2 linked regions of the Homo sapiens genome follow. The protein of the gene in region 2 interacts with the protein of the main gene of each other region in a pairwise test. Each region holds a gene or a part of one and is shown on either strand. Other genes may lie near its edges. The genes, in order: SLC25A46 and FUNDC1.

Evidence for each region.
Region 1: the proteins of FUNDC1 (region 2) and SLC25A46 interact in binary tests that used the Homo sapiens proteins (3 or more experiments, as listed by UniProt).

Annotation. Positions count from the first base shown.
Region 1 is NC_000005.10:110,748,678-110,760,151, reverse strand, and holds part of SLC25A46 (mitochondrial outer membrane protein SLC25A46), read right to left. Parts: intron 4,688-11,474; coding exon 4,631-4,687; intron 4,157-4,630; exon of another isoform or gene 4,031-4,156; intron 3,451-4,030; coding exon 3,393-3,450; intron 1-3,392. UniProt on the Homo sapiens protein: Transmembrane protein of the mitochondrial outer membrane that controls mitochondrial organization.
Region 2 is NC_000023.11:44,536,346-44,552,726, forward strand, and holds the start of FUNDC1 (FUN14 domain-containing protein 1), read right to left. Parts: upstream 6,515-16,381; 5' UTR 6,488-6,514; coding exon 6,460-6,487; intron 5,757-6,459; coding exon 5,600-5,756; intron 2,198-5,599; coding exon 2,122-2,197; intron 1-2,121. UniProt on the Homo sapiens protein: Integral mitochondrial outer-membrane protein that mediates the formation of mitochondria-associated endoplasmic reticulum membranes (MAMs).

The sequences.
Region 1 (11,474 bases), on a different chromosome or scaffold from region 2:
AATAGCACTGCCTTTTATTGAGATGAAAAATTGCCAGAGTAGCAATTTGGTGAAGATCAAGAGTTCAGAAATGTTAAGTAAATTAACTCCAAATGGAGTTCACAATAGAAATTACAGAAAAAGGTACACAATGGACCTACAGATGGTTTCCAACTTACGATGTCTCAACCTAAGATTTTTCGAATTTATGACAGGTTTATTGGGATGTAATCCCATCGTGAGTGGAGGAGCACTGTATTATAAATGTGGGAGTCTTTAGTAAATAGATGATATTTAAAACTATGAGATGACAGTGAGCTTGCCTAGCCTTCTAATCCATCTTCCTACTTCTGACCCTGACATCCTTCCCACTCCAGTTTATTTTTAATGCAACAGTCAAAGAGATCCTAATAAAGATGTAAGTCAGATCACACCACCGCTCTGCTCAAACCTATCAAAGACTTTCCATCCTTCTCAAACAAAAGCCCAATTATTACAATGATTTACAATGTCCTATGTAATCTGGTCCCCTCTTACCACTCAGGCCTCATCTCCTGTATTCCCCCCTTGCTTACTTAGCACCAACCATAACAGCTTCCTTTCTACTTCTTAAGCATGTGTGATACAACACACATGACACAGTCCCACTTGAGAGTTTTTGCACCTGCTTTCCCTCTAAATACAATTCAACATTTGCTTATTTTGTGCTTAGTTAGCACCAGCCACATCGGCATCCTTCCTACTTCTCAAGCATGTATGATACAACACACATGACACAGTCCCATGTAAGGGCATTTGCACTTGCCTTCCCTCTACTTAGAATATTCTCCCAAATATGCATGTTGATCTTTACACAAATGTCACCTTCTCAGTGAGACCTTTACTTATCTTCTTAAAAAAATATTAACCGCCCCTCCCTACCCATTACACATCCTATTTGCCTTCCTTGCTTTATTTTTGCTTTCTTTAGCAGTTAATCGCCATGAAATATACCTTTTATTTAGTTGTTTATGTCTACTTTCCCCATAAGAATATAAGTGCTATGAGAACAGAGCATTTTGGTTTTGTTTGCTGTTGTATCCCCAGGGTCTATAACAGTACCTGATATAGGCAAGTACTCAATAAACAATTGATACATTTTTTTTAAAAGTTTAGCAGTTAAGATAATCTGCAAATCTGAAAGGTAAAGTGATGTAATTAAAACCTTGGTTTAAAACTATAATAAGAAGTCTGAAGTTGATTTTAGGGAATATGAGTCAATATGAATCCTTAATCAGTAAAAGGATATATATAAGTATTGCAACTTGAAAACAATCTTGTATGAGTATTGACTTTTAAAATGTGGAGACTAGTACAAGGATTTCTTTCTTTCTTTCTTTTTTATTTTTTTTAAGACAGAGTCTTACTCTGTCACCGAGGCTGGAGTACAGTGGCGTGATCTCAGCTCACTGCAACCTCTGCCTCCCGGGTTCAAGCGATTCTTCCATCTCAGCCTCCTGAATAGCTGGGACAACAGGCGCCCACTACCACACCCGGCTAATTTTTGTATTTTTAGTAGAGATGGGATTTCACTGTTGGCCAGGCTGGTCTCGAACTCCTGACCTCATGATCCGCCCACCTAGGCCTCAAGGATTCTTAATGAAGAAATAGATAACTACAAAGTTCATGATGACTGGGTAATTATGAAGGATGAAAGAAATGTAAAAATAAAAAACTTTCCTAAAACAAAAACTAAAGTTTTGAATCTTTAGTGTGAAGATAACAATAGTATCACTAATATATTGCCAAGGAGAAGAGGTTCTAAAGGAAGCTAATTTTTAGAGGGACAGATGAGATTGTTTTTAAAAGTTGAGTCTGAAGATTTAACTCACATGAGATTAGAGCTAATGATTCCTGTGAATAAATTAGCTCTTTCAGAATAATGAGTATAGGATAAAAAACAGAGGGTCAAGGATTGGGCCTTAAGGTATAAGACAAGAGATGGCAAAGGCATTATTGAAAAAAGATGTTCAAGAGAGAGAAATCTAAAGAAAAAAGAGTTCTAGAAAAGCAGACAAAAGAGATCAAAAGGAGTTAGCAAGTGGAACTTGAAGCAGGAAACAAGGAGTAAATACTGGGTTAAAAAAAACACATACACAGAAAAAACCCTATCACATAGTGAGCCGGGCACTTATATAAATAACTCATTCAATGTTACACGTCAGTTATTAAAATACTATTCACAATTTATGGATAAGAAAATTATAAAGGTTAAGAAATCTGTCTAAAGTCCCAGGTCTAATTTAAGCAGAGAAATGTGATAATGGGTCTGTCTCAAGCTAAAAATTGTTTTCCCCAATAAATCATTCTGCTTAGTTGTTTTTCCTTAAATAATTACCTTCCTGACATTTTTCCCTTACCTTTAAAATGAGGCTATCTCATACAAGTGACAACTCTGTAAATTCTATAGCACCATACAAAAATTCATCATTTATTTAACACAATGCCAAATGCAAGGGGAAGGGAAAGTATGATTTGGGTCGCAAGACACTAACTTCAGTTAACTGAAGTTAGTTCTAACAGAAATAATAATAATAATAATCATAAATCAAAGATGAATGATACAGCCAGAAAAGAAACAAGGTAGAAAAGAGTAATTAGAAGAGCAAAGGCTGATCCAGTGCGAGTTTTTACAGAGAGGGCACTCACATATACTAGAGAAAAGAATATGCTAGAGGATCTGATGTGGAAATAGAAGACAGGTGTACAAATAGTTGGATTTTGTATACAGGTGAAGTAAAAACTACCTTCATCTTACAGTTTTAAGTGTAGGAAGGAGGGTAAGACATTTAATTAAATGTACTTGAAGCGCCACCATGTGGTTAGGAATAGTAACACAAGCAAACAGAATTTCAAGTGCTAGCAGAAAATTGCTTCAGCTTTGTAGTATTTACCACACCCAATAGTATCAAATGTCACTTAAAGGCATGTTTTAAAAGAATCCTGTCAGTAAACTACCTGTGGGGACAACCTGCTTCCTGTTCGGATGATTATCCATCATGTTTATTCTCAGGTAATTATTAATTTACTGTCCAATGATAAGCCATAACCATCTGAGTTGTATGTAAGGGCCTTAAAAAGTTTATAGATTCTTTGTTTTCAGAGCAAGTTATAGGCTGTGTTCTGAGATGTCTAAATGAAGAGTATAGTTGCCTATGGAAAGGACAAAAATAATTAAAACTAGAAGTGTGACTTAAGATACCAATGGAAATATACAGACAAGCAACGTGCGATATAACTGTGATATTTATAAAATAAATATTTTAAGACATAGTCTTAAAATTTTCTGCTGAAATGTTAGATATCTACAATATACTGAATAGTCAAAAAACTATTCTTAAATAAAAAAAAAATGACAGTAAAAAAAAGCTCACCTGCACTGTTTCAATCAGACTTGCTGAATAAAAAGGCATTGCCACCACGTAAGTTAGGCTATAGAAATTAAAACAAATTTATCAGTATACTGAAACAAGATGCTTATACTAAATTTTTTAATATCTGCTTTAATATGTCAACATAATTTATAGTCAAGCTAGAATAATCTTTTTAAGGTTTTCAACTATTAATACCTACAGCCTAAAAATATTAACTTCAGAAATCTGTAACGTAGGATGCTTTATTCAACAGAGATGAAAAAATCAAATGATAAAACAAGGACAGCCTGCAAAGAAAATAGATTGGACATCTACCTACACATAGCTAATGCAGCCTATAAATCTAAAACTTAAAATTGAGGATGAGGGATCCATTCCATAGTTTGCCTTTTTAGTGATATTTGAGCAAGTAACTTTTCTGTTACTATCCTCTTATATCAATTCCCAGATTTCCCATCCAGCAGAGTTAGGCCAGTCTTCAATGGTGAGTGAAGTCCCTTTTATTATTAAAAAAAAAAAAAAACATTATACAGCTTTGCAAAGTTGTTTCCTATCACCAATATTTAGACATAGTAATATTACAACTTTGCAAGCCTGCAAAATATAGTTATTCAAAATAATATCAAGGTGGGACTTACCTAACCCTTATGGGCCAGGTCCTGGCAAGTAGTGGTTTTCAAGGTGAATGGAACATCACTAAGTAATAATGTGCTGGAATGTCCCACTGAGGGAGCCAGCAAGCTGGGGGATTTCCAATTCACAATCTTCAAAAAAAAAAATTAAAAAGTGAAGAATAAAATTCTAATCTACAAAAATGGTTACCGTTGTAAAATCACTAAGTGCCTTCAGGACTACATTTCAATGTCACTAAGGTTTTTTGGGTTTGCTTATCACCATACAAATACATTTGCATCTCTGATTAACAATAAAATAGTTATACTTTCTTTGAAAATCTGGGTTAAATAAATTGAAGACCTATGCTAACTTCCTAAGAAAACATACACAAAATTAGTCTGTGATTCTAGCCTTTCAAATTAGGAATTTATTTTAAAGATAATATATATTTCAGGATTTATTCCTAAACTCTGTGTTACTTTGTCCTTTGAAGTTATAGTCCCACCAACATTTCACTGCTCTAATTTCCTTCTCTACAGTTATTTAATAAGATTTGTTTCCAGTTCTAATACTATAAAAATTAGTGAAAATGCCCAATAAAAATGCCATTTTTTGATACTTACGATTTCAGTAGAAGGTGTTCTCCTATTTGTTTAGGACTCCATTTATGTAAAACCTCCCTAAAACATAAAAATAAACTTAAATAAAACAAAAGCCATGTTATTTAAAACATCTGGAATTAGCCCAATTTTCAAAACAGTAATCAACTTCTAATTTTTTTCAATCTGTAGGAGAAATATATTCTAATGGTGAACATTTTCTTTTCTAGAACACAGTGTAAACAACTGTGATGGTTTGAGAGAAAAAAATACAAGGTGTTTTCATACGTGCTGATAGAAGGGGCTGGCAGAGAAGCAAGAGGCACAACTGATTATGAAAGTAAACATGAGAAATTAAAGGAAGAAAATTAAGATGATTGGTTAAAAGAAAGAGAATAGATATGGAAACAAAGAACAGGATTAAAAAAGGCTTTACAAAGTATATAAGAATGACAATTTTTTAAAAAAGTTAAGTAACTCTAATGCAGGCTGACACATTACATTTATGTAGTACCTAATTTCTGAATTATCTTTACTTAGTACAATTACATAATTTTGTGACCATTATATTCTATTATCTTTGTGAGCACCTACTAAATGCCATGACTATGCAAAGTGCTTTGCATGAACTATTTCTAATCTTCATAATAACCCTATTTTCTCCATTTCATAGATGAGGAGATAGGATCAGAGGGGATTAATAACTCATCCAAAGCCAAGTAACCAGTTAGTGTGGAACTCTGTTCTAAACCCCGGTACTCTCTGCCTGTACTGCCTCTCATCTTATTTGATACAAAGAAGAACCTTGTGAGATAAGCAGAGCAGATATTGTCACACTTGTCTTACTGATGAGAAAAATCAGGGTCAAAAAGATCACAGGAAAATGTTCAAAGGAAACAGGCAAAAATGCCAGGTCTGGAACCAAGGTGTAGGATTTTGTGCATTCTGTCTGCTAGTTTGGTTACCTTTGGAAAACAAGAAAAGAAAGAAAAAAAAGGAAGGAAGAAAAAAAAAAGAAAGAAAGAAGGAAGGGAGGGAGGGAGGCAAGCTGAAATGAAATAGAACCAAAGGTGAAAAAAGGGAGTAAGTTCTATCAAGAGAAAAGTCCAAAAAGAGTCAAGATTATAGAGGGTAAAAAAAAAAGAAAAGAAAAAAAAAGAAAGTAAATAAGAAGAAAAAAATGAAAAGGCAGGGGAGATAGAAGAAAAATGAAAAGAAAAAGAGAAAAAAAAAACAGAAAGGGAAGTGCAAAATAAAGATAAGACTTGCTACCAACAGTTTCTCTGATGGAATGGGTACTCATTCCATCATGGCTATGGCTACAGCAGGAATCTAGATAAACATTTTCTATTTCACATGACTGAATTTGAAAAACAACAGCATATACATACATCAGAGACTTTCAGACAATAGAGCAACTACCCCCGATTTCTAAGACCTTAGAGCACCTTCTGGGCCGAACTCTGATTAAATTACTATTAGGATATTTATTTGGCCTGAACAACACAATGTAGCTGAAATCATATTATTCAATGATTAAGTCGAAAAATATAAAAAATAGATTAGGCCTCCCATCTTACTGAAAGTTACTTTATGATTATAAAACAAAATACGTTACATGCTTTGTAAATCATCTTGGCACAGCTAATACTCATGGCCTCACAAAGTATTACCACAGTTTATGACGACACCAATTTTAAGTATGAAACTGTGGTAAACACTTAGGACTGGGTAGCCTCCCCTTTAAATACAATGTCAATTCTGAGTTACCTCCCCTTTGATGACTACTGCCAATTCTTAAGATCATTAAGATAAAAGGAGACTTAAAACCAAGTATTTAAAAAAATGCTTTTGGGACTCTTCTTTGTATCTGTTCTCTACTACTTTATAAAATGGGTAAAATTTACTGTTACAGCTCTAGAAATTTAAATAAGCATACTTAAAAGCTTCAGTCACTAAACCTTTTTATAATTCATTATCAAATACCAAACATGTAAATATATCTAAATTATCTATTTCCAAGCAAAAAATGCCCTCCCTAATGAACGAAAAAATTAATAAAATTTATTCGAGTACCTTGCTTTTCTCAAAACAGTCTAGTTTTTCATTTAACAAATCAAAACACATACTCCTATGCATAATCAACACAAAAAAGGCAATAAAATTCTAAAATAACTCTGTCTCAGCAGTCTTTAATTTTCAAATGGTCAAATAGCTATCCTAATTAAAAAAAAAAAAAAAAAACTTACCCCAACCTACTCTAAACCCCTCATCTTCCAGTTACCTCTCTTCATCAATCCTAGTCAGAGCCAACCATCTAAACTTTCTGTTTCCACGTCTGTACTTTCCCACTCACCTCTGAACCCACTTCAAATTGGTTTTGAACAAAAACAGCTCTTACCAAAGTCTCCAATAATCTGCATGTCATTAAATCTGATGGACATTTTTAAGTCTCTACCTTATTTGACATTTCAGCAGCCATCAGAGCCTCTTCTCTCCTTGAAGCACTCTTTGCCCCTGTGCTCCACTAGCCCATTCTGTTGGTTTTTATCCTGCCTTCTGGTCTCTCCTGACTCCTTTTCAAGACCACCTTTCTTAACCCAGCCACCCCTTGGTTGGAGTTCCTAAGGTTCAGACTCTATTCTTCTACCATAGTGTATCCTTCTTCCCTAGCGACGCTCATATCTAGGGTTAGAGCTTCAAAATCTCCCAAATTAATTTACCTTCAGTTAAGAATTCTTTATATGCCAGCCCCATATCATGTGCCTACAGACAACTCCATCTGGATATGATAAAAGATCTGAAAATGCACTTGTACTAAAGTCCAACTTAAAATCTTTCTTTTCTACTTAAACTCTTTCAGTGTTCCCTACTCAGGAACTATTAATCAGAAAGGAAATCTATTGAATTTGAGGAAGATTTCATTGTGTTTAAAATAACGTGTGTTTAAAATAAGCAAATTCGGAGGGAACCGTTGGAGGAAAACTACAAGATGTTTACAGTGGTATAACCACAGATGTGTGATGAGTCAAAACTAAGTTGGAGTTGAACCAAATGGGTTTTGTGAGAGACTGAACCACACAGGTAGCCTTGGTTACAGGAACTCCTACCTCGCGTTAACAGTCTGAAAAAAGCCACATGTAAATTAAGTAAAGGGTACTGTGGGGGTAGAACGACACATGGTTTAACTCACTGCAACTGGGAGAGAGAACAGGGAAGGGTTTAGCAGTATCTACTGCTAAAGAGATCACACATGACGATCCTGGCTAATATATAATTTGTTAAAAAGTAATACTACTGAGAAATTATAAATTTGCTGACTTAATGAACACTAGAGATCTGCTGTTTTTCTCTTTGATTTGATCATAAACTGTATTTAAAAACCCCTAAATATTGGCAAATCTGTACTATCTCCCCTGTTCTACCTAGTAAATGTTACGCAATTAAAAAACCCCAGGCTAGGAGACCTCAGAGCTCATCCTCCTCATGTAGTAGCTTCTGTGAACTGCTGTTAATGTTTTGTGACCTTGTTTGCTCCTTCTTCCCATTAATAGGATACAGAAACAAACTCTGCCTTCTTCCCATTAATAGGAAAGGTCAAATCTGCCCAAAGAAGAATAAATAATTTTTTAAAAGATATTCACACTATACTTCAAAAAAACAGCTTCATTTGACAACTAGTTACACAAGCCCAAATACAAGAAGTCATTCTTCATACTGCCTTCTCTTTGATCTACCATTCCTAAAGCATCACCAAATTCCCTCAGTTTGACCTAAGTATATTTCAAAACTGTCCACTTACCTCTATCTCAAAAGATACCACCCTGATCTTAGCCACTATCTTTTCTTACCTTTATTATTGTAATAGAATACTAAGATGTCTCCTTTTATTCACTTTGGTCCTCATACAACCTTTTCATCTACAGTTACAATGACCCTTTGAAAACAAATCTGATGTCACTGACCTTACTGAACCTCTTCAATATTCTTAAAATGGCCTACAGGGCCACACATGTTCTGGCTCCCACCTGCTCTGTACCCTTACCCTTGGCCAGAGCTCCAGCCATGTGAGGCTTCTCTCAGTTACACCTGAATTCTCTAGGCTCCCCACTGCAACAGCATTTTTGTACAAACTGGTATGTACCTCCTAATTACCACTCTGATCTACCTTAAGTGTCATGTTACTAGGGACACTGTTTCTAGCCCTTTAATACTTTCATGGAACTATATTCTTTTGCTTCAGAAAACAAATTTCAATTTGCAATTATTCATTAATGGAATTATTGTTCTTAGTGAATGTACTTTTATTAGATTCTGAGCTTCCTGGCAACAGTTACCTTTTGTTTATTTTCCTCACTGTAAACCCGGTTTTTAGCACAGAACCTGGCACATAGTAAGTACTCAGGAAATGTTAGCCAAGTAAATGAATGAATTAATGAGTGGGCCTTATCACCAAAATTATCCAAGTAGAACAATGCAATAGAGGTTACTATTTTGTCTTCTTTGGAAAGATTCAAAATGATGAAAATATATTCCCACTCAGTTGACATGTCTGTCTACTGAGTAAGAAAGTTAGATGATAAAATTTTATAAAGTCCTATGCCTTCCCATTCCTATTTTTCTTTTTTCTTCCCTGTAGCCTGAAATTAATGTTATTCCTTCATCTCTGCTTTAGAGAGGCAACATTACTTGCATAAGGTCCCAGAAATAAAAAGTGGAATAGCCAGGACCTGAACCAATAGTGTTCTGGTTGCAAATATAGTCAACCCTCCATATCCATGGGTTCCACATACATGGATTCAGGCAACTACGGATTTACAATATTTATTTAAAAAAGGGATAGTTGCATCTGTACTGAATGTGTACAGAGTTTTTTTCTTTCTTGTCATTATTCCCTAAACAATATAGAATAACAACTATTTACATAGCATTTACATTGTATTTGGTATTACAAGGAATCAAGAAATGATTTAAAGTATACAGGAGGTTATGTACAGGTTGTATGCAAATACAACACCATTTTATAAAAGGGACTTAAGCATCTCTGGATTTTGGTATCCACTGGGGGTCCTGGAATCAATCCCCTACAGATATGAGGAACAACTGCATTGAATTTTTTTCACTCTACCAAATGGAATTTCCTGCATTTTGTTATTTTTTTACAGAATTGTTTGTTAAAGAATTTCAAGAATATTTGACTATAAGTACTAACTTGGGATCTTATCTAGTGATATAAAAGCAATAAAGTGAATAGTTAGCCAAACAACGAAATACAGATTTTTAAAGAATAAAACAAGAAACTCTGAGCTGCCCAAATGTTGCTGACCTTTCTAATCTTTGTTTTGTTTCAAACGTTTTAGCAAAGTTTATTTAAGGCACTTCAAGACTACGAGGTCCTTCAAAAGCAATCACATTGGAAAAAAGCTTACTATCAGTTTCTCTTGCTTTCATTTCCTTCCCTGTAAGGACTAAATCCCAACATTGGGCATATGCGTTACACTAGTAGCTATGCCTTCAACTATCTCACTTCTTTAACAATGCAAAAAATTCACCTTGCCAGAGAATAAATTTGGATTAACAAACCATTCCAAAGCCTTTAACATTATCGATAGGATGATATACAAAAATATAGTGCTGATATAGAAAATCAGAGTAATGCCAAATAGCACCTTAAAAATTTCTAATTTCCAATATTACCTATTAACATTCCTTTCATATACTCTTTGTAAGATTCCTTTGTTACCCATCATTGTGACTGTCCCAAATGTGTATCATTCCTCTCATGCTTTTCTACTACAACCCCAATGCTTATCATTTTTTCACCAAATAACCCTGTATCCTGCTTCACAGAGAAAAGAGAGACCCAAAAGCAAATTTCCCTAATTTCTCTACCCTCTCTCTCAAATGTATCTACACTTCTAATTCTCCCATTTTTGGTTTCTAGAACATGATTGTCCTACATCTTATGCTATTTCCAATTTGTCTGAGGCCCTCTCTAATTTCTCTCATTATCTCCCCCAACTACCCCCCTTCCCACCGCTCCCACACACACACGGCACACATGTATGCCTAGGATTCTGTCCTTGGTCCATTTTATTCATTTAATCTATGCTTTCTCCTTAGGTGATTTCATCTATCCTAAGCTTCAGCTGCTACTTTTATGCCACAATACCCAAAGCTCTCCCTGTGCTTCAATTTTCTATTTTTTTTTTTTTACTCTGATCCATGGTTCCAACCAAATATGAGACATGTCCCTCTCCCTCAATGTCTTGCAAGAATCTCAAACTTCATTTATTGAAAGATAAATTCTTTATCTTCTTCCCTACTCCAACTTTTTCTTCTTCTTGAATTCTCCATCTTGGTTAACATTTTCCAATCTAGAAATCTCAGTCACTACTGACAACTCATTCTCTCCTATCTCCAATTACCAAGCTAACATAATGACCATCGACTATACTTCAGAAATGTCTAGCCAGCTCATCCCTTTCTGTTCTGTTCCACAGTTCAGAACCTTCTCAGCCTCGCCTAGATTATTACAATAGATCTCCATAAATCTGTCTATACAACTCCATTTATTTTATACTGCCATTTGAATATATCTTGATCAGAACATCTATATATTAAAAAAAGAAACACATTCCAAACCCATAGAGAATAAACTTAAAAAGGCACAATCGTATTTTAATGTAGCACCTCAGCTTCTTTTCCTGATATTCAATTTCATACATACCCAATATTCCAAACATAAGACACTTCTTTTATTACCTAGACTGTCCAACCCCGTGACATTGGACATGTTACCTCTTCTTGCTTACATGTGTCTCCTTCATTAAATGAATACTTAAAGAGCGGGAATTGCTCACATACC
Region 2 (16,381 bases):
TTCCTAGTAGAAATAATGGCCAAAACCTTCCCAAACATGATTAAAGACATAAATTCACAGGCTCAAGAAGTTCAGTGAACTCCAAGTAATCAATCTCAGTGAACTCCATATAATGAATGATCTAACACAATTATGAAAAAAGGGAAGTAACTACACTCAGACGATTGAGGGAGAGGGAAGAAAGCATTCAGGTATGTGAGATTTGGGGAAGTATAGGGAAAACAAAACAGGTCAATAAATGACAGCTAAATTTTCCCATTCCATAATGGGAAGCCAATAGTTCACACCTAAAACTGAAAGATCAAGAAATGTCCAATTAACTTGTTTAGGGAAAAAGAGATTACTACCTTAAGAATCAGTTAAGAGTGCAAACTGGATGTCTCAAGGGATGGAAAAATGGGGGTAGTGAGAGAGGTGGAGGATTACTCTAATCTGTAACAAGCCTTGCACAAGTACTTGGCCCTTTGAATTATAAGGATGTATAACTCCAAAAAATTAAAACGAAGAGACTGTGTACTTTAAGATGGCAGTGTAATAAATATCTATTGGAAAACACTTGATATTGTTACTAGAAAAGCTTTAAGTTCTAAATAAACTAATATTTACCTTTAAATATAAGAAAGGTCATAAAAATATGAAAGTGGGCCTAAAGAATATTAGGCAATTAGCCTAAAAGCCATTTGTTACTTTATTTCCCCTTTCACTTTCCTTCTACTGAGTTTTCAAGGTTAGTCGTATTTGTGGGAAAAACTGGTTTGATGCAGATAGGTCCTATGTTGCTCTGCCTTAAAAACTTCAAAGACTACGTGTACTAAATGCGGAAAAGTGGGAGGTGGCAATGACAAAATGTGGATTTGAATGGTGCATATTGAGTGAACTGAAATGGACTTCTGAAAAACTGACATGCAGAGTGGATTAAAATATACACTTCTCTCCATTCTGTGAACATTTTAGGAAACTCTGCTTCAGTCCAGTACCCTTTTACACTAACAGAAATGACAACTGAGTCTTCAAAATAGCTATGGAATAAAATATGCTCTTGATTCCATATAAAACCAAGTCAAAATCAGCTTAAGTAAAATTATCATCTGTACTAATGCTGGCATATTCATCCAAAGAACTAAATTTAGGTATTAATCATTTTTTTTACCTCTTACCACAAGTAATAAGCAATTATTCGTAATAATGTCACCAAAAGAAAGAAAACATATATATTTTTAAAAGGCTGTTTAGTGAACAACTCAAAATCTGTGCTTCATACATACAAATCTAGTCCCCTTGTACTACAACTACACTAGTTATTACATGATCGATGGCTTAGGTGCTGAATTCAGATTCTGGTGGCTATGAACATCAATCATTTTTAAAATCTAGTACAAGTGACAGTTCTCTGTATCTTTAAAAGTGCTGCTCACATTCATTCGTAGAGATTTTCAATTTTTGGATTTACTATATTTGATCTTCAAGGAATGATATTTTTGAAAAAATACATGCCAAACAGACATGAATGCCAGATGATGCCCTGATAAACATCCTCTAATGGCAAAGCATTTTTAGATCTTATACTTACAAGAATATGAACAAAACTAAAACTTCAAATCTATCTGCCTCAGATATAAGATTATGGATTTTTGTTTTGTTTTGTTTTGTTTGGAGACAGAGTTTTGCTCTTGTTGCCCAGGCGGGAGTGCAATGGCACGATCTCGGCTCACTGCAACCTCCGCTTCCTGGGTTCAAGCAATTCTCCTGTCTCAGCCTCCCAAGTAGCTGGGACTACTACAGGCGTGCACCACCATGGCAGCTAATTTTTGTATTTTCAGTAGAGACGGGATTTCACCATGTTGGCCAGGCTGGTCTTGAACATCTGACCTCAAGGGATCTGCCTGCCTCTGCCTCCCAAAGTGCTGGGATTACAGGCGTGAGCCAATGCGCTCGGTAATGGCTGTCTTTTTAATAGCTGGGATCAAACTATGCTTAATAACTCAGAAGTATTTAAATTGTTATCTTTCAAGACAAAAGTCAGCTTCCAAAACTCATTGTAGCTCTTCCATAAACTGATGCCTAAAAGAAAAATTCCACCTTCTATGAAAGCAAAGGCAAGTGCTTAAAGCTCTGACATACCTGAAGAAGAAGAAAGCCACCACCTACTGCAGTTGCTGCAAGTTTTCCAACTTTCTGGAACAGAAATCCTGCACACCTTTAATCAAATAACAAAAGATGAAAACAATCAATTATGTACTAAACCCTCTCCCTCTTCTACTTTTCATTGCTTTCCTAATAAAATCTTATGTCTTTGCATTTCTTTTGATCACATCCCTTACCTGCTCAGAAACCTTCTCAGAAACCCCTCAGTTATACAGGCTAGTCAAAAATGCACAATCTAAAATGTCTGAAATTTGCTTCAAAATAAGGGACGGAGAGAAGAGGAGGAGAATTTATAGAAAAAAAAGAGCAGCTACTAAAATAACGACAAGTACTCAGGGGTTCATTATATTCCTCCTACATTTGTATAAGCTGAAACCTCCCGTAATAAAAGTGATGTTTTGCTTAATACAGTCAAGATGGTCCATACACCTGGTTGACCCCCACCTTCGGCTCCAACCCCATTAACCTCCAAATAGGTCATCACCTTTGCTCAAGCTATTAATCTCCCTGCTTCTAGGGGTTTCTTCCTAGCTCTACCTATCTAAAGCTTTCCTACCATTCCTACCCTTTCAGGTCCAGCTGTTGTTCCACTCAATAACTATACTTCAGCCCACATTTCTAAAGGCCTCCTTATCTATATCTACCTATTTTTATATTAAATGTTTTTTGTGTCTCATCTACCCTGTGTCAGCTCATACTTCTTTTGTCATTAATTCGCTCCTTCAGTGAGCTCACATTCCCTTCAGCATTCCAGATCCACACTGTGCAAATGAATCCTATATTTCTAACTCTAGCCTTCTGCACTGGGTTGAATGGTGTCCCCCTCAAAATTCATATCCTTCCCAAAACCTCTAAATGTGACCTTATTTGAAAACAGAGTCACTGCAGATGTAATAAGTTCAGATGAGATCATACTGGACAGGGTGGGCCTTTAATCCGATAAGGACGCACACAGAGGGAAGACGACATGTGAGGACAACAGAGGCAGAGACTGGAGTAATACGTCTACAAGCCAAGGAATGACAAGGATTGCTGGCAACCACCAGAAGCTAGCAGAGAAACATAAAACAGATTTCTCCCTCTGAGCCTCCAAGAAGGAACAAACCCTGTTGACATCCTGATTTCAGACTTCTAGCCTCCAGAACTGTGAGAGAATAAATTTCTGTTATTTAATTTAATTAATTAATTTATTTTTTAGATGGAGCTCGCTCTGTCACCCAGGTTGGAATGCACTGGTGCCATCTCAGCCCACTGCAACCTCCGCCTCCCGGGTTCAAGCAATTCTCCTGCCTCAGCCTCCTGAATAGCTGGGATTACAGATGCCCGCCACCACACCCAGCTAATTGTTGTATTTTTAGTAGAGACGGGGTTTCACAATGTTGGCCAGGCTAGTCTTGAACTCCTGACCTCTGGTGATCCACCCGCCTCGGCCTCCCAAAGTGCTGGGATTACCAGTGTAAGCCACCGCACCTGGCCTCCACAGTTCTATATATTTTATCTCCAAAACATTATTTGACTGTCTTCTCCTTTCCACTCTCAAGGTCATCATTACCTTGCTTCCAGAACACTTTAAGGGCCCTCTAACTGGTCTCAACACCTCCCATCTCTCCTAGCAAGGACCCATCCTAATAGTTTTAATTTTTTGTCATGATCAAAAGCCTACAGCTACCTACAGCAAAATAAAATCTCCTCAGCCTCCTATACATGTCTTGAATTGGTCTAAATTGCTAACTTGTTAGGTTAGTGCCTATTAACTGTTCCTCCTTAATATACACCATAATATCACATCAGTTTTACATCCTAAGAAAATTGCAAAAATTTACTACACTGAATATAGTCATTGCAACAAATCGCCTGTATAATTATTAGAGTTGTATTATACAGCTCCTGGACCAACACCTGGCTGTAATCCAAATGTGTGTGTTGTGTGTGTGTGTGTGTGTGTGTGTGTGTATGTATATATACATATATGTCAGCAACAAAGGCTCAGAAAAGGGAACAGAAAAGGCAGGCAGCAGCCACAATGTCCCTTGGACTGTGTTCCACAAGCATGTGTATCCATTGCTTGATGGCATCAGTCACTAAAATGAACCTATCTCCTGCTGCTCTGTCTCTAGGCTTTCCGAGCAAACTTCTGCCAATGATGGGGCTTCATCTACAAGGAGTCTGGTCTCCAAGGAGAAACAATGAAATGACTTGATAATTCTATTCTCAATTATTTTTGAGTCTGTTTTAAGACTGGGCTTTAGGCCCTGACTGACATTAACCAATCACCCATGGAACCAAATTGTGAGCTTATTTAAGCAGAGCCATACCCTGAATTACAGGGCTAGAGGAACTATCAGCCTGTGGAGAATTATCTGAATGACCAGGCCCTGACAGGCATCTCTCTTCTAATTGCAGGCTTTTTTCCTGCAGCAGCACTAGTAAGTACATATCATGAATAAATGCCGCACCTCTGCACCACAGAATCTTCACAATGAGTACTTCTATCATAAAATGGCATTTGCAAAAAAAAAGGCATAGAAGAGTGGGTCATTATTCCAAGGTGCATGTAAAACACAAATCAAAAAACTCATCGTTATACTTATCAAGTGGAAACAGGTAAATATTTCAATTAAATCTATGTAAGATGAATTTAAATAAGAATCTAAGAAAAAACGCTTATGCACAAGTTAAGTACCCTCACTAACTCCAAAATTTCTCTACAGTCACGAACATTTTCAAAACAGTCAAATTTGTTTCTGCCCCTTGTTATCTGGCTAGTTTTTTTATTATAAGAACAGAATTAGATCCACAGTAGCCATTGTGTTATCACGTGGTCTGAAATGTTAACTGGTCAGGCTGATGGTTATTAACTACTTCTTAATGGACTCCACAATATTATCAAGTAAGCAATCAGACCTTTAAACACAGAATTAACGTTCTACAGCTCTTTTTCAAAGAGTTATCATAATCTGAACGAGCCCACAAAAAACAGAATCATCTGTATCATCACCAATAATTCATACTGAGCATTTTACACTGCTCTGTACAGGGCTGACAATACTAGAGGCCAGTTCTACCGTGGGAGTTTCTTAGGTTTTTTCAGCAGTTAGCACTGAATGAAATGTAAAAATTTACATATAATTAACTCATATATTTCTTCCTATCTACTATCACTGAATCAGATCCACGACATTTGCTGAACATGAGAATGGGGAAATTATATAAAGAATCAAAAGAAGGATGAGGAGGGAGAAGAGGAACAGTGGTGGGCATGGGGGAGGGGATCGCCAAAACTCAACAGGGAGCCTGGGAATGTAGATTACATCAATTTTAACTCAGAGAAAAGCCTCTTCTGGAATTAACAGTGTAGACCTACTGCCTGTGCACGGTGATTCTTGCCCATGTATGAAAGGACAGCAGTGTCAGGCCCCCAAATGAAATTTAATGAAAAAGACGTTGTTCTCACCAGCCAGTAACGCCACCCATTACAATCTGGGTAGCTACTGAGTATTTTTCTACCATAGGTCCCGAACTGTGGCCAAACACTCGATTCCACCACTGGTGTCTTCTTGCATACTCAGTTAAATCCAACACTTCATAAGAGTCGTCATCACTTTCATAGTCTTCAAAATAGCAAAATGCAAAAAATAAATGTAGAGTCAATCAAAAGTCAGAAATGTTCTATACATCTTTTTAAAAATCTGTTACAACTCATTAGTTCTGGCCTACAGCTAAAAATGCCCACATAGAAACTACTGACTTTATTTAACTCAATTCTTGAGACCAGGGCCTCAAGAGTAAAGGACCCTGCAACAATGACCCCCATCTGCTTTCCCAAAGGCCCGGGGACCAGCCTGGGGTCACGAAGCCAGGGCCAACTCAGAATGACACAGTAGTGAGGGGTCACCCCCACCTCCAAACCTTAGTAGGGTCAAGGTCAGAGCAGGGTCCATTTTCATCAGTGGGAGGAATGGGGGTGGGGAGGGGTCCTCCTGAGAGAACTAGTCTGGAGCTCAGCGAAATCACTTGAGTCCAGACGTTTAAAAAAAGAAAATAATACATTTGAAGATGGGAGATGAAGGGCCGGAGGTGAAGGTAAGGCAGGAGGCAGGTAGGGCTGTGCTGGGGGTGGGGGTGGCTCTCCGCTTGAGTTCCGCAGAGAGGGGAGGAAAAAGTCTAGCTCGGAGGGGGTGCTCGAAGGGGCTGCCTTAAAAAAAAAATGGAGCTCGAAGAATCCTAGGGCAGGGGAAGGAAGAGGTGCCATAGGAGCAAGGTCGAGAGCTGTGAGCCGCGTCCCAGATACCACTTCGGGCCCTGGCCGCTCACCTTGGGGAGGGGGGTTCCGGGTCGCCATGATACCGCCAGCGGCCAATTCTGGAGTGGTCCCCACCCGCCCTCCTCTCCCTGGCACTTTAAGGGCCGCTCTAGGCCAGGATGGAAGTCTATGGTCTCTTTTTTCCTCCTTCTCCTACTCCAGGCGCGTAGTCCTGTCTCCGCCCCCTTCTCTCAGCGCAGGACCTTCTGCCTTCTGCGCAGGCGCGAAACTCCGGAATGTGGGGAGGGCCGGGCGGATCATAGCCCCGCGAGAGCGTAGGGGACTTGTAGTCCGTTGCCTTCCGCAACTAGGAAGGGGGAGGGACCGCCCCTCCTAGAATTTCCGTAACTTGAATTTGATTATTTTGTTTTAAAAGAGCCTTAAGGGCTGAAGGAATGGGGTGAAGGGCGCCACATGGTGGTACAAAGGGAGAACCAGCTGGGTATTGACAAAGACTCTCTCCTTGACCAAACTTTAGTCAGGAGGCTCCTCTGAGCTGTTTTTGACTGGGTCTCCTCCTTGGGTCGTCTTTGACCTGCCTAGTCCATTTGTGGTAAGAATGCAGTTAAGTCAGTTTAGTAAGAACTCCCCCACCCTTAATATCGAATCACCCTCAATATCCGATCGAATTCCTCAACCCCACTCTTGATATCTGATCACTCTGCCACCAGCAAAAATCCTGTTAAATTGGCTTTAGCAAGAATACCCCTACCCTTCATGTCTACTCTTGGTAATCTTCCACCCATTGATCCATTCACTCTGATCATTTACTATAAATTCCCTGCTGTATTCAGAGTTGAGACCCATCACTCACCCCTATTGCCATAGTCTTTGTTTTATGAGAAAAGGTATTGCTCTGTCACCAGGCTGGAGTGCAGTGGCGCTATCATGGCTCACTGCAGCCTCAAACTCCTGGGCCCAAGAGATCGGCCCACCTCAGCCTCCAGAGTACCCAGGACTCCAGGCGTGCATCACCACTCCCGGCTAATTTATTTTTATTTTTTGTGGAGAGTAGGTCTCCCTGTGTTGCCCAGGCTGCTCTTAAACTTCTGGGCTCAAGCAGTCTTCCTGCCTCTGCCTCCCAAAGTGCTGGGATTACAGATGTGAGCCACCATGCCAGGCTGTATTGCAATAGTTGTGATACCTATTGCAGTAGTCATGAACAAAGTCTTCCTTACCATTTTAAGAAGTGTCCCATAATTTTTTTGTCAGGCCCATCACTTGCATACTGTCAGAATAATTTTTTAACAGTATTTTGAACATTACCAGAATTCAAATGCTTGAGGAAAAAGGCTTGTAAAAGATAAGAGAAACCCTGTTTCAAGCCATACTTTTCTAAGGGCGCAAGCGCTCACAAAGGGACCACAAGTTTTCTAATGCCCTGCTGCTAGAAGTTGGAATCTGTTTACCTGCTCTCTCTCTTGAGTTCCTGCCAGGAATCCAAAGGAGGTAAAGAAAGGCCTAGAAACCTCGTAATTCCTGACCTGGCAAGAGGACATAATTTTTTAGTGTCATTCTTTTGTTTGTTTGTTTGAGATGGAATCTCGCTCTGTTGCCCAGGCTGGAGTGCAATGGCACAATCTCGGCTCACTGCAACCTCCACCTCCCGAATTCAAGTGATTCTCCTGCCTCAGCCTCCCAACATCCCAAGGAGCTGGGATTACAGGCACGTGCCACCACGCCCGGCTAATTTTTGTATTTTTAGTAGAGAGGGGGTTTCACCATGTTGCCCAGGCTGGTCTCGAACTCCTGATCTCAGTGATCCACCCACCTGGGCCTCCCAAAGTGCTGGGATCACAGGGGTGAGCCACCGTACCCGGCCAGCATCATTCTTATTATTTAAATCTGACAGAGGAACAAGGTCAAGGTCTTCACCCAGAAACCCCATGGGATTCTATGAATACAAAGCCATATTGATCACCAAGCAGCTAACCCAAGTCCACATAAACCAACCCAGAAACTTGTCTTGAACTTGCGTTGCACCCGCATCTGCTGTACAATTAAACAAAAGTCCTCTCAGTATTCATTTTAATGGAAAAACAAGGAATTCTGGCATAAATTGCATTACTTTAAAAATTGGCTTGCATAGATGCACTTGGCTTTTCAAATCCTGGCACTTTATTATTTCTTTTTACAATATGCCCATTTATTAATATTCTTATTTATTAATTACTTTTAATAGCAAACCACAATTACTTTTGCACCAACTTAACACATAGCTTGCAAGTTTATGTTTTGTCATTTGTTGACTGGGAAAGGAATTTTCCTAAGCATGTAAAATCCCTATAAATTGAATGGCTTACCTTCATTATCATTTGTATTATGATACTAATTTCTAGTAACTATTGAGTAACTTGTCTCCCTTTATTTCTTACCATATCTCTGCAACTAATTAGCCTGTTAGCTTCAATTATGTTTTATTTTAATTTAAAACTGATTGGAAAATCAAATTCTCTTTTGCTACGACCCAGTATAATTTCACTGTGTAGAGATAGCAAAAGCATGTGGACAATCCTGGCAATCACTTTATTTAAATTAATGTTCATGGAGGTGGTTTGCAAGGTTGTGTTTGAAATGCTTGTTCTCCGGTGCCATAAAGAAATAGCACTTGAACATAAATTTAATTTATTTAGTAAGGCCATTTTTACTTTTTGCAGAAAGGGAACACTCGCTAGCAGTTTTGCCACAAGAGTACACTGAACAAAGGACACAGGGTCATTTATAACCTGACGCGTCTACCTTACTGCTGTGTCCGGTTTCCACTGGCTGGAACGGGACCTCACATTCTGTATTTGTCTTGATTGGCTAGCAACTTGGAAGTTTTTAAAAGAGGCAAAGGTAGAGGAGAACAAAGGAAAGAGGAAGTAACTTGTGGAATGCTGAGAAAGATAAAAACACTTTTAAATAAGGAAGAGGAACAAGCTATGACCTAATGCTTGCTTGGACCAGTATAAGCATGCCAGGGCAAATATTGAGGCTAAATTGTAGGAGATAAGAAGATAAAATACATTGATTCCTTTATTATGGCTAGCAGATATTTAAGAATGTTAGCACAGGTCTTTGAATAAATTTTGCTTTTAAAAGAAGTTACCATTTATTCCTAATTAGACCGGGAGGAACGTCTTTGAAGAGGAACCTCTATTTTACTTTTTACAGTTGAGGGAAGAGGATGGAGGAGAGGACCACAAACTGTCTAAACACATAGCCAAAAAAGAACACAATTAAGATGAGAGATTGGGCTGGGCACCGTGGCTCACTCCTGTAATCCCAGCACTTTGGGAGGCCGAGGCAGGTGGATCACCTGAGGCCGGGAGTTTGAGACCGGCCTGACCAACTTGGAGAAACCCCGTCTCTACTAAAAATACAAAAAATTAGCTGGGTGTGGTGGTGGGCACCTATAATCCCAACTACTCGGGAGGCTGAAGCAGGAGAATCACTTGAACCCGGGAGGCGGAGGTTGCAGTGAGCCGAGATCACACCATTGCACTCCAGCCTGGGTGACAAGAGCAAAACTCCATCTTGAAAATAATAATAATAATAATAAATGAGAGCTGGGCTTGGTGACTCATGCCTGTAATCCCAGCACTTTGGGAGGCCGAGGCGGGAGGACCACTTGATGTCAGGAGTTCGAGACCAGCCTGGCCAACATGGTGAAACCCCGTCTCTACTAAAAAAAATACAAAAATTAGCCGGGTATGGTGGCGCACGCCTGTAGCCCCAGCTACTCAGGAGGCTGAGACAGGAGAATTGCTTGAACTCAGGAGGCGAAGGCTGCAGTGAGCCGAAATCACGCCACTGCATTCCAGCCTGGGTGAGACAGAGCAAGACTCCATCTCAATAATAATAATAATAATAATAAATGAGAGACTGAAGTATCTCAAAAGTGAGGATATTGGAAACTTTGGACATTAATAGGGTGGTCTAATGAATACAGACACACTGAAATAATGTGTTCATTCTTAGGCAATTAAGTTCATTGTGTTGCTGATCCCAAGAAACAACATTTTATCCAGACATAGTGACTAATGACTATATAAAATTTTTAAAACATTAGTGTAACCAAACCTATACTCACCCTGTGCCTCTTCAAACTCACACCTAAATTGAGAATGGGACCAAGGAATATGCCTTATTCAAGATTTTAAATCAGACCTTGAAAGTGATTAAAGTGATTATTTCAGGACGTTGGTGAAAAATTGTTAAATTGACTATATAGTTCTATAAGATTTACTCTCAATTCGCTAAATAGAAATCATAGGTCTATTTTGAAAGTTAAGTGAGGACTTACTGCATATTTATGTTTGTCAACGAAAAGAGTCAAACTCTGTAAAATATTTGAAGAGCTTTATTCTTAGCCAAATATAAGTGACCATGGCCTATGACACAGCCCTCGGGAGGTCCTGAGAACATGGGCCCCAGGTGGTCAGGATGCAGCTTGGTTTTATACATTTTAGAGAGGCATGAGACATCAATCAAATACATTTAAGAAATACACTGGAGGCCCGGCATGGTGACTCAGGCCTGTAATCCCAGCACTTTGGGAGGCCAACATGGTGAAACCTCGTCTCTACTAAAAATACAAAACTTAGCTAACCGTGGTGGCACATGCCTGTGGTCCCAGCTACTTGGGAGGCTGAGGCAGGAGAATCACTTGAACCTGGGAGGTGGAGGTTGCAGCAAGCTGAGATTGTGCCACTGCACTCCAGCCTGGGTGACAGAGAGAGACTCCATCTCAAAAAAAAAAAAGAAAAAAAGAAATACATTGGTTTGGTCCAGAAAGGCAGGACAACTCAAAACGGGGGCTTCCAGGCTGTAGGTGAACTTAAACATTTTCTGATTGAGAATTGGTTGAGTTTATCTAAAGACCTGGGATTCATAGAAAGGGAATGTTCAGGTTAAGATAAAGACTGTGGAGACCAAAGTTCTTTTGAAGTCTTATGAAGTCTTATAGTGGCTGCCCTTAGAAACAATAGATGACAAATGTTTCCTATTCAGATTTTAGTTAATTTCTTTAGGATTAGGAGGGTTTGGAAGAAAAATATCTAGCTATGTTAATATAGATTCTTTACAGATGCAAATTTTCCCCCACAAAGAACAGCTTTGTAGGCCATTTCAAAATATGGCAAAGAAACATTTTGGGGTAAAACATTTGATTTTCTTCTTTGTCTTGTAATGTTAGGCCAGAGTCAGTTTGGAAAGTAAGTCACAATGTATAGGGTTAAATAAAACCCATCTGATGAGAATTTATGATTTGTAGGGCATGACTCCCCAGACCCCTTAGATAGCAATTTGGGCAAGATAAAAAAATCAGAATTTAATTCTCATGTGTGACACGGATTTTTTAAAGTATGAATCAGCAGCTGGGTGTGGTGGCTCAGGCCTGTAATCCCACTTTGGGAGGCTGAGACAGGAGGATCACTTAAGCCCAGGACTTTGAGACCAGCCTGGGCAACATAGGGAGACCCCCGTTTCTACAAAACAAAAAAAAAAAAAATTGGCTGGGCACAGTGGCTCATGCCTGTACTGCCAGCACTTTGGGAGGCCGAGGTGGGCAGATAACCTGAGATCAGGAGTTCGAAATGGGCCTGGCCAACGTGGTGAAACCCGGTCTCTACTAAAAATTAAAAAATTAGACAGACACGGTGGCACACACCTGTAGTCACAGCTACTCAGGAGGCTGAGGCTGGATAATCTCTTGAGCCCAGGAGGGCAGAGGTTGCAGTGAGCCGAGATCATGCCACTGCATTCCAGCCTGGGAGACAGAGCGAGACTCCATCTCAAAAATAAAATATAAAAAATTAGCCAGACATGGTGTCGCACACTTGTGGTCCCAGCTACTCGGGAAGCTGAGGTGGGAGGATTGCTTAAACCTAGGAGGTTGACGCTACAGAGAGACCCTGTCTCAAAAAAAAAAAAAAAAAAAAAAAAGATGTGAATCAAGGAAATAACCATTAAGGCAAATATGATTTAAGAAAATCCTGGCACTTTAGATACAAGGGTTGGTTCCCCAAAGTTCCTCAGCCTGTAGCCCTCAACATGCAATTCTAAGACTGGCTAGAGAAGTTAATGTTTATTTAAAAGACAGTTACTTTGTGTATGACTCCACTTTTCAAAAACAAAACGACATTACGGGACATAGCTTCAAGTCTCCTCTCTGAAATATTTTTCCAAAAATTACAGATTTGAATTCGTACACTCCTTCTTTCCCGTTGCCAACCCATTCTTAATGAGGTGCTAACAAATAGAGAAGTAGCAAATGATGGGCCACTGAAAGAAGAGAAAGGGAAAAAAAAACAAGAGAAAGGAAAACAATAAATTGGAAGAGTAAAATGGAGGGTTGACAGGGCCAATGACATCCAAATAACACTGACATATTGAAACCGTCTTTGCAAAATTATGAGGAGACAGTGAAAGATATCTAACTTAACCGACTCCATCTTGCTTCTAACCTCCAAGCTGTCCTTGTTCATTCCTGGGCATAGGCTGAATTAACTTTGGGAGAAACTAAGTTTATAGTTTAAAGACCACAGCCAGGTGTGGTGGCTCACGCCTGTAATCCCAGCACTTTGGAGGCCAAGGCAGGCGGATCATTTGAGGTCAAGAGTTTGAGACCAGCCTGGCCAACATGGCGAAACCCTGTCTCTACTAAAAATTAAAAATATATATATATATTAGCCAGGCATGTTGGTGCACGCCTGTAATCCCAGCTACTTGGGAGGCTGAGGCAGGAGAATCGCCTGAAACTGGCAGGTGGAGGTTGCAGTCAGCCAAGATCACGCCACTGCAGTCCAGCCTGGGTGACAGAGTGAGACTCCACCTCAAAAAAAACAAAACAAAACAAAACAAAACAAAAAACAGATGATAACAGCCCTTTCCCAAAGCAGACCTCCTTTTTGCCTGGGGACTAGATTGCCTTTGTAGACAAACATTAGCCACAAGATTAGAAATTATGGTTTAGCAGTCATGCAGCTGGAGGCTACTACATTCTGACCCTCCATAAACTACTCCTAAAATCAGTGCTAGAGACATTTTGCAGACCCTGCACTTGATGGATCAGCTGGCACCACCCAGATTGATACACTGGCTCATTTGATCTTGTGGCCCCCACCCATGAACTGATTCAGTGCAAGAAGACAACTTTGACTCCTTATGATTTAATCTCTGACCAATCAGCACTCCTGGCTCACTGGCATCCCCCCTACCCACCAAGTTATCCTTAAAAACTCTGCTTCCCAGGCCGGACACGGTGGCTCACACCTGCAATCCCAACACTTTGGGAGGCCGAGGTGGGTGGATCACCTGAGGTCAGGAGTTCAAGACCAGCCTGGCCATCATGGTGAAACCCCATCTCTACTAAAAATACAGAATTAGCCAGGTGTCGTGGTGTGCACCTGTAATCCCAGCTACTTGGGAGGTTGAGGCAGGAGAATCCCTTGAACCCGGGAGGCGGAGGTTGCAGTGAGCCGAGATTGCGCCATTGCACTACAGCCTGGGCAAAAAGAGCAAAACTCCTCTAAAAAGAAAAAACAACAACAACAAAAAACTCTGCTCCCTGAATGCTCAGGGAGACTGATTTGAGTAATAATAAAACTCCAGTCTCCCACACAGCTGGCTCTGCATGAATTACTCTTTCTCTACTGCAGTTCCCTGTCTTGATAAATTTGCTCTGTGTAGGCAGCGGGCAAGGTGAACCCCTTGGGTGGTTACAATATTTCTAGCAATATCTGCCAACTACAGAAAGAAGTCACTTACCTATCAAGTATATGGTAGTTAGAATCAAATGGCTATGGAGAAATGAGGAAGAGAATTTTTTAAGAAATATTCCTCTTAAAATGCTGTTAAATAAAATGTATATGCCGGTGCAGTGGCTCACGCCTGCAATCCTAGCACTTTGGGAGGCCAGGGTGGAGGGATTGCTTGAGTTGAGGAATTCTAAACCAGCCTGGGCAATACAGTGAGACCCCATTTCTACAAAAAATAAAAATATTAGGCGGGCATGGTGGCACGTGCCTGTAGTCCCAGCTACACGAGGAGGCTGAGGTGGAGGATCACTTGAGCCCAGGAGGTTGAGGCTGCAGTGATATCTGATTGTGCCACTGCACTTTAGCCTGGGTGACAGAGAGAGAACTTGTCTTAAAAAATAATAATAAATAAATATAAATGAAAATAGAATAAAATTTATAGGAGGCCTTTGGTTTGGACTGAACTCCCGCACTAGGACCAACAGACCAAAGCAAAATAAAGTCACTCATGTGGAAGTTCCATACCACCAAAAAGCCAAGAAATCTTTTGACCTTCCAAGAAATCAGGAGAGAGATAATAGCCAAATCCCCAAATAGTCCCCTTTGCTTTAACCTTTACAAGGAAAGTAACTTTCTTTTTCTTTTCTTTTTTTTTTTTTTTTTTGAGACAGTCTTTCTCTGTTGCCCAGGCTGTAGTGAGGTGGTGCGATCTCGGCTCACTGCGACCTCCACCTCCTGAGTTCAAGCAATTCTCCTGTCTCAGCCTCCTGAGTAGGTGGGATTACAGGCATGCACCACCATGCCTGGCTAATTTTTGTATTTTTAGTAGAGACGGGGTTTTGCCATGTTGGCCGGGCTGGTCTTGAACTCCTGACCTCATGTGATCCGCCCGCCTCAGCCTCCCAAAGTGCTGGGATTACAGGCATGAGCCACCGCGCCTGGACTGGAAAGTAACTTTCAAACAACCAATCTGCTTTCTGTTCCCTGTATCTGCTTTCCTCAGCCAGGTTCTGTCTATAATAAAGCCAACCTCCTCTGCTCAGCCCATCAGAACACTGATTTTACTTTATAGAATGAGATGTTGCCTGATTCTAGAATCACAAATTAGAGCCAATTATGATCTTTAAACTAAATCTGTTGCAATTTTGTTTTTTGACAATGCCAAAGAATAGATCGTTTTGCCTAAAATGTATCCAGAATGTATCCACAAATGAATTAAAAAGCAATCATTTCTCTAAAGTCTTTGAGGGCTGAGAAAGAAGTTTTTAGCATTTTTCCCTTCCATCTTGGGATAATATGCCCTTGTCATTACCTTACAGAAGTTGGCTGTATAATGTATTTTTCTAGTGTGGATTTTTTCTTTACCAGTAGTGAAAAAGCTGTCATTTTGTTGGCTGAGTGACGAGTGGTTTAATGCGTTAATTTTATACACAAACTTTACAAAGCACTATAACCCTCAGGATGTGTTCAAAAGAGTGTTTTTTATTATTATTATTCCCATTTTAAATAGTGTATTTTTTTTTTCAGTCAGCATTAATACTTTTTTTTTTTGAGATGGAGTCTCACTCTGTCGCCCAGGTTGGAGTGTAATGGCGCGATCTCAGCTCTTTGCAACCTCCATCTCCAGGGGTAAAGTGATTTCTCCTGCCTCAGCCTCCCGAGCAGCTGGAACTACAGGCATGGCGGTACATGCTAATTTTTTTTTTTTTTTTGAGGCGGAGTCTCGCTCTGTCGCCCAGGCTGGAGTGCAGTGGTGCGATCTCGGCTCACTGCAAGCTCCGCCTCCCGGGTTCACACCATTCTTCTGCCTCAGCCTCCTGAGTAGATGGGACTACAGGCGCCCGCCACCACGCCCGGCTAATTTTTTGTAGTTTTAGTAGAGACGGGGTTTCACTGTGTTAGCCAGGATGGTCTCAATCTCCTGACCTCATGATCTGCCCGCCTCGGCCTCCCAAAGTGCTGGGATTACAGGCGTGAGCCACCGCACCGGGCTTAATTTTTGTATTTTTTAGTAGAGATGGGGTTTCACCATATTGGCCAGGCTGGTCTCGAGCTCGTGACCTCAGGTGATCTGCCCACCTCGGCCTCCCAAAGTGCTGTGATTACAGGCGTGAGCCACCGGGCCCAGCCAGTATTAATAAATACTTTCATTGTGAACACTGGTATCTTCTCTATGACTACACTAGAATAT